Homo sapiens: one gene and its partner. The protein of the gene in region 2 interacts with the protein of the main gene of each other region in a pairwise test. Each region holds a gene or a part of one and is shown on either strand. Other genes may lie near its edges.

What was found. Proteins that work in one complex are often made in the same cells at the same time.
Region 1: the proteins of MBNL1 (region 2) and PRPF39 interact in a two-hybrid assay, tested with the Homo sapiens proteins (one large-scale study listed by BioGRID).

Annotation. Positions count from the first base shown.
Region 1 is NC_000014.9:45,093,095-45,097,694, forward strand, and holds part of PRPF39 (pre-mRNA-processing factor 39), read left to right. Parts: intron 1-2,126; 5' UTR 2,127-2,145; coding exon 2,146-2,469; intron 2,470-3,008; coding exon 3,009-3,134; intron 3,135-3,792; coding exon 3,793-3,911; intron 3,912-4,600. UniProt on the Homo sapiens protein: Involved in pre-mRNA splicing.
Region 2 is NC_000003.12:152,275,429-152,278,928, forward strand, and holds part of MBNL1 (muscleblind-like protein 1), read left to right. Parts: intron 1-3,500. UniProt on the Homo sapiens protein: Mediates pre-mRNA alternative splicing regulation. Acts either as activator or repressor of splicing on specific pre-mRNA targets. Inhibits cardiac troponin-T (TNNT2) pre-mRNA exon inclusion but induces insulin receptor (IR) pre-mRNA exon inclusion in muscle.

The DNA.
Region 1 (4,600 bases), on a different chromosome or scaffold from region 2:
CCTTACAAATCTGTGAGTGCATGTGTGTATGCATATATATGTATTTAAAAAATCTATAATGGATATTTTTCTGTATCAATACAGATGTACATATTTCCTTTTTAATTCTTATTATTCCATTATATATGATTTATTTTTTTTTTTTTGAGACGGAATCTCACTGTATTGCCCAGGCTGGAGTGCAGTGGCACGATCTTGGCTCACTGCAACCTTCACCTCCCGGGTTCAAGTGATACTCCTGCCTCAGCCTCCCGAGTAGCTGGAACTACAGACGTGTGCCACCACACCCTGCTAATTTTTTGTATTTTTAGTAGAGATGGGGTTTCACCATGTTGGACAGGCTGGTCTTGAACTCCTGACCTCAGGTGGTCTACCCTCCTCGGCCTCCCAAAGTGCTGGGATTACGGGCATGAGCCACCGTGCCTGGCCGAGTATACTATTTATTAAAGCAGTCTTTTTCTTTTCTTTTTTTTTTTTTGAGACGGAGTTTCACTCTTGTTGCCCAGGCTGGAGTGCAATGGCATGATCTCGGCTCACTGTACCCTCCTCCTCCCAGGTTCAAGAGAGTCTCCTGCCTCAGCCTCCTGAGTAGCTGGGATTACAGGCATGTGCCACCACGCCCGGCTAATTTGGTATTTTTAGTAGAGACAGGGTTTCTCCTTGTTGGTGAGGCTGGTCTCGAACTCCCAACCTCAGGTGATCCGCCTGCCTCAGCCTCCCAAAGTGCTGGGATTACAGGCATGAGCCACCACGCCCGGCCAAAGCAGTCTTTTTCTTAATACACCCTCCAGTTTTGCTGTACAACAGTGCTGGTAATGAATGCCCTTAAACAAATACATGTTTTTTCTGATTATTTCCATAGTATAAAATATGTACAGTTGCTATTTGGTACACTCATTATTTTGATTTATGTCTTTATTAGTAAAGATATAGGTCTTTTTTATGTTTATTGGTCATTTGCATTTCTTCCTTTGCATTATTGTCTTTAAAGTTTTAGTCATCTTTTTAATTAACTACTATTAATATATTAAGTAGTAGTATATTCTAAGTATATTTTAAGAGTAAATCAGTTTTATGGTCTGCTTAATTTTGAGAATAATTCCTCATTTTAAAAAAAATGAGACATGCCCTATAATTTAATGATTTGGTTTCCATTTAAGCTGTTAGTGGAAGAGATGAAGGTAATTATGAAAATATAATGTGGTATTACCTTAAAGGGGTAATTGCTTATTACCTTATAGCCTTAAAAATTAGATGACATAATTTTAAGTATATTATGTAGTTATTATCCAGACTGTAAGCCTTTCTCAAATATGTTTTTTAGAGGTAGGGTCGTGCTCTGTTGCCCAGGCTGGAGTATCGTAGCAGGGTCAATGCTTACAGCAGCCTTGAACTTCTGGGCTCAGGTGATCCTCCTGCCACAGCATCTCCTGAGTAGCTGGGACTGCAGCTGTGTGCCACCATGCCTGGCCCCTTAAATGTGTTTTAAGTAACATTTATTCACTTTAAAAATTACTGTTTAATTTTTTAAAGCCATAATTTATATCTTATATAATAAAGTTGAAACCTAGCTGTCAGGATTTATAAATCGTAAGTATATAGATATATTTAAGCAATATGATTTTATCTTTTCTAAAACTTTATCCTGAGCCAAGTGATGAGCTTCCTTTTGAAATGTTTATACCCATGACCAGAATTTTTGTCAGTTTTACTTTTAGCCTCCAGAACAGTTGTTAAAGATATGCCGTTTTCCAGTGATTGATAGCAAGGTAACATTCAGGCACCGAATCAGATTCTTACCTAAATAAGAAACATTGAATTTTAAATAGTATTTCTTCATTGGGTAGCAGGCAGTGTACTTATTTGTTGTTTGAATGAGGTAACAAATCCACAGTTATTTGGTTTTCATTCAAATACCAACAACAAAATGGCAGTTTTGTGAAGAATTTATAATTTTATTTACAATATAAAAACTAATGAACCTTCTGATTCTGACTTGTAGGGGATTAAGACTCACATTAATATTTCTTTAATAGCTAAATTAGGGCTTTTTAAAAGGTGTTGTTGAGGCCAAATAATTTTATTGGCATTTGGAAGATATTTCTCTTTTTTTCGTGTTTCCACAGATCGTTAACTGAAGACAATATGCAAAATTCTCACATGGATGAATACAGAAATTCTAGTAATGGCAGCACAGGCAACAGTTCAGAGGTAGTGGTAGAACATCCTACTGATTTCAGTACTGAGATTATGAACGTTACAGAAATGGAACAGTCACCTGATGACTCTCCCAATGTGAATGCATCTACAGAAGAAACTGAAATGGCAAGTGCTGTGGACCTTCCAGTGACGCTGACAGAAACAGAAGCAAATTTCCCTCCAGAATATGAAAAATTTTGGAAAACTGTAGAAAATAATCCTCAGGATTTTACAGGCTGGGTATATTTGCTTCAATATGTAGAACAGGAGGTTAGTAACTATTAAAATGGTATCAGAAGGGACAAATTAATCAAGTCATTAATTTATAATGAAACAGTAGACCTTATTGTTTATGATTAAAATTGACTCATAATTTTCAAATGAAGTTGAATAACATTAGGTAGCTACATTTTTAGCTTTGAAAATAGCTTACAGCTTTTGTATGTTGTAGAGAGTCAGTAGTGTCAAAGCTTAATGTTTTGTAATAATTGAGGTGTAAATGTGTGTGTAAAATTGCTGAAATAAAAAGTTGGCAAAATTAGTTCCTTCTGTTTCAATTGCGTTTAGAAGAAAAAGGGGGCTGCTGCCTGTGTAGGTTTTTTTTTTTTTTTTTTTTAAGTGAAAGCAAGTTTATTAAGAAAGTAAAGGAATAAAAGAAGGGCTGCTCCATCGGCAGAGCAGCCTGCATGTGGAGTTTTTAAGCCTGCCATTTATTATTATTTTTTTAGATAATAACGTTTGAAAGGAATAATAAATATTTTTTTGACAGAAATTTCCACAATATTTAAATACTGTTTTATTTTTATCAGAATCACTTGATGGCTGCCAGGAAGGCATTTGACAGATTTTTCATACACTATCCGTATTGCTATGGTTACTGGAAAAAGTATGCAGACCTTGAAAAGCGGCACGACAACATTAAACCATCAGATGAGGTGCGTACATCACTGAATAAACTTATCTCCAATAGGTACTGTAAGCCAATTAATAACAAAACAAAGATTTTTTTTTTTTTTTTTTTTTGGCTGGCAGTACCTACCATTTATGGTCAAACAATTTTTATAGGGTATTTATTTGCATTTGTCACTCTTGTGGCATTTGTAGCTAATATTTTCTCTCTTTGTTGGCAGGTGCGTTAAACCTCTACAGTTTGTCAAGCTTTGCAGTGCAAGCCTCTGTATTACACTGCAGCTTAACAAGTAGGGCAGGGCTTTTCTCTCACTTACATTTATTTCTCATTTTCCAAACAATATAGTTGGTTTGCTAGTCACATTTGCTACGTCTTATTGCATTTTTGGTCAGACGCTGTCATTGATGCTCTAATGGGTCTGTGCCCTATGGTCTGTAACCCAAAGCCTGCCCACACAACCCGGTCAGAATGCAGGGACTGCTGCGCTTTGAAGATCAAGACTCTGCACGTGGGGATCAGAACATTGCCATGTTCTATCCAACCTCCACCCAAATGGTAATGGTAGATTATTTAAACAAAATTCCAGTAATTAGTATTTCTAAGGTTCACCGGATAACACAGTGTTGCCTCTCTGTTAAGAAATAATTAAATATTTGAAGTACAGTTTGCTGTTTTCTTCTTAGGTTTATCGGCGGGGGCTTCAGGCAATACCTCTTAGTGTTGACCTTTGGATACATTATATAAACTTCTTAAAAGAAACATTGGACCCTGGTGATCCTGAGACAAACAATACAATAAGAGGGTATGTGGAACATTGATACTGAAATGTTTTTTATGATATAAATAATTATTCTGATGTTGATAATAGAGCTCATGAAAGCTAAGCTGGAAGTTTAACTTCTATTCCATTGTTAAAAAAATGATACATGTAATAAACTTAAGCTTTATGATTTGAAAATGCAGATAATAAAGCCCTCCTACAGTCCATGCCTCTTATGTCCCCAATTCCACTCCTCAAGGTTAATAGCTTGGTGTGTGTTCTTTCAGATATATGTATAAGTACATGTTTATGCGTATGCTTTCATACTGCTCTTTGACTTTTTTTTTTTAATAATGTTTGGGAATCTCTTCCTGCCATATTTTTTAACAATTACAAAAAGTATTTTATAATACTTTATAAAAAGTATCTTATAAGCCAAAGTACTCTATTTCACCAAATCCTTATTTATAGGAAATAATCAGTGCTACAGTGAACATCTCTGTACAAGTCAATATTTTTTGTAGAATGCACTAGAAATGGAACTTCTGTCAAAGGGAACACACAGCTCAGTTTTATCAAATGTTCCTTCAAAAATGGTATCGATTCTAAACTCCCACAGTGTATGAAAATAATCATTTTCCCACAGCTGTGCCACATTTTTTGTTTGTTTTACCTCCAGTGGCATCTCTTTTAATTTGTTTATGTCTTGATTGCTCATCCTGGTTTACCAT
Region 2 (3,500 bases):
GGCTGTGTGCAGTGGCTCACACCTGTAATCCCAGCACTTTGGGAGGCCGAGGCAGGCAGATCACGAGGTCAGGAGATTGAGGCCGTCTTGGCCAACATGGTGAAACCCCGTCTCTACTAAAATACAAAAAATTAGCTGGGCATGGTGGCGCATGCCTGTAATCCCAGTTACTTGGGAGCTGAGGCAGGGGGATTGCTTGAACTCGGGAGGCGGAGGTTGCAGTGAGCTGAGATCATGCCACTGCACTCCAGTCTGGCAACAGAGCAAGACTCTTGTCTCAAAAAAAAAAAAAAAAAAAAAAAAAAGGCTAATGTTTATACCAGGCAGGTAGAAAAACAAAAACGGACCTCATTAGAGGATACATGAGGTTTCTAAAAGTGGAACTCCTTTGTAAATGTAAGAAGTGATATCAATATTATTATTATTTTAATATACTTATTTTGAAGTAACTAAGTTTTTTTGTTTATTTCTTGAAAGAAACAATAGATTGGGGAAAAACCATTTACTCTTTTCATGCCCTAGTTTCTAAATCTGTGACATTATAAAGGTGTAAATATTTATGAAAATAGTAGAAGTTGCCACTGGCTGTATTCTTTTAAGTAAGGTATCTCATTTAATCTTTTCTACTGTAAAGTAGCCGTAAAGTAATAAGACTTTTACCTTAAAGATCATGACTAGAACAATTTTTTCATTTGCGGAGATATGAGGCTTGTCATTTTTATTATTCCAATGTTCATGTTTTTAACCAATTTTTCTTGTCTTGCCTCCACTGATTATATATAAAGAATAGCGATGAGAATATAGCTGTAATTATGATTACTAACATCTTTGAATACTTTCTGTGTGCTAAGCTAAGGTTTATAATTAATTCATTTATTCCTCAGAACAACCCTATGGTATAGGTACTGTTAATATTCTGATTTTACAGATAGGGGAACTGAAGCACAGACAAGTCCAATTAATTGTGCAAAGGTACTTAATTAATAAGTAGCACAATAAGGAGTTGAACCAAGGTAGCCCAGCTTTAGAATCCATGCTCCTGTGTAAAAGAATAAAAACAGATTTTAAAAATACTTATTTTGGATGCTGATAGGAGCTTGAGAACATAAACGTTTGGAATACTTTAAAAGACTTGTACTTTCTACATCATTTGAAGAGATTCCAGAAGAATGGGCAGAAAGTAAGAGGATAGAGAGAAAAGGCCTGGGGTGAGGGGTGGGAAGCATTAATAGGATAGGAAGAAATGAGGAATCAGGTGTTCAAGGGAGATTGGTGCTACACTTTTGAGGTCATTGATGACCAGCTAGTAAGTTTAATAATACGTAGTGTGGAACATAAACAGACACTTGGTGTTTAGGGTAGTAACCTTACAGGAGTTGTGTTTTGGTGACATTTTATAGGGGTAGGACACATATAGAATGAAGTAGAGATTGTGGTTATACAGAACAGAGATGAGGGACTAGATGAGGGGAGTGGCCCTAGAATGAAAAGGAGGACATGTATGCTGAGAGAAATGTGATAAGGTTAGGCTGCATAGGATGTACCAGCTGACTGGATGTGGATATTAAAGGCAATGGGGGTATTAACAATTATTTTTAAAATACAGCAAGAATTTAAAAAACTTTTAATCAATCAAAAATTCCTTATTTAAGAATTATATAAAATATCAGTAAGTGAAAAACATTTAAAATTGTATTTTATCAGGGATTATAACTTAAGTAGAAGATACATGTTAATTTCTTAAAACATTTCATTTCTGTGCTAAGCTCTTTCAAAGCACTGGATGGTGATCTAAAGGTCACCAAATTCTTTGTCCCAAATTGGTAATTTTAAAGTAAACATAATTTCAACGTTAGGCCTATTTTGTTATTTGCTGAGAAATGTCTCAATGTCAACCAGGCAGTTCTCCTCTCTTATTAAAGTCCATGCTCAGAATGCCTGTGTAACCTATCCTTAGTGATAAACAAGGTGGCAGATAGATACATGATAAAACAAGTTTGCCATGTGCTCAATGTGGCTGACATTTATACTTCTCAGACCTTGCTATTTTAGGGAAGGTATCAGTATAACCAGGGCATTCTTTTTCCTGGAACTAAAAATCCTTAATAATCAGTCACTATTATAAACAGAATGATTTACATACAGGAATCAATAAACAGTTGCTTTTGGTTAATGGTTATCTGGAGTAGGAGGATAGTTATATTTCAAATAGAATAGAAAGCTTTATTGGAATACTTACATGTCTTTTTAGTTTGAGGACCTTACAAGCTTTTTACAAATAAATGGTTTAAAATAGTTTAAACAGAAAATGTCAGAACATTGATAGATTATGTTTTATTTAATATACAGAGAAAAATTCCCATGAAATAAAGACAGTTTTCAAGAAAAATATTCTATTTATAAATATTTACAACTTATTAGTTATTTAGATTGCCCGTGTCCATAAAAATAATACAGAAATTACACTATTTATGTCTTTAAATATAGCATGTTTCTATAAACTAGAGAATAATGTTGACAGTATTTTATTTTGCCTTTGTTAGTATTATGTGAAAGTCACACTTATTACATGCCTTTTTCTATTATTAGACTTTTTTTCCTATCTAGTTTTTGCCTTGTGCTATACAGTATGGTGAAAATCTATTTAGCTATGTCATTAAGATAATGCTTAGAAAATGCTAATTTTTAAGTAACTAAGATTAAGTAGTATTGGATATTCTTTGCCTTCTTTATTATTCTGTCATTGGGCTAATTTTAACTAGACAAATTTATTCCAAAGTATTTTGAGCCATTATTTGAACTTCATTGCTGTAACATTCAGGAAAAACTGCATTGTCTACCTAGTGGCATTCAGATAAGGCATTTGGTCTTAGGTACCTCTTCCAAAAGACTTTTAAGAGGTTTGATAAGCATAGCAAAAGTGAACGACGGAGGATACAAGAAAATCTTTGATCCAGGAGTAGTCTCTCTGAAGCATTGCATGACCTTTCCAAAAAATAATTTGAGAAGTGCCTAACAATAGAAAAATATATATTTTTTCCTTCAATAGGAAAGACTTTAGAAAAAATATACTCAAGTAGAATTCTGCATAATGCTTTCTGGGGGACCACATTTGCTGAAAATTGCCTACGGGAAATGACTTTCTCAGAGTGATATAGTTTTGAGGACTGAGATTTTAAAAGTAAATATTTTATTGGGAGCAATTAATTTAGGAAGAATAGTATTATGCCTATTCCTCTGTAGTTGATTAAAGTTTACTAAGTGCTGAGGTCTTTTCCCTTAAAACATTACTTTGCCATGTTAACAATCAGGTCATAGAGGAATGAATTCATCTTTTGTGTTTTGCTAAATAATCAGTTAACAAACATATTCTGAGCACGTTTAAAGTCAAAGGATTGTAGTAGGTCACAAGAGGGAGATCGAAAGTATAATTACATAGTGTCTTTCCTTCTTTGACATACAATTGGGTTGAGGAGAAAGACTTGAAAACTTAATGCAAG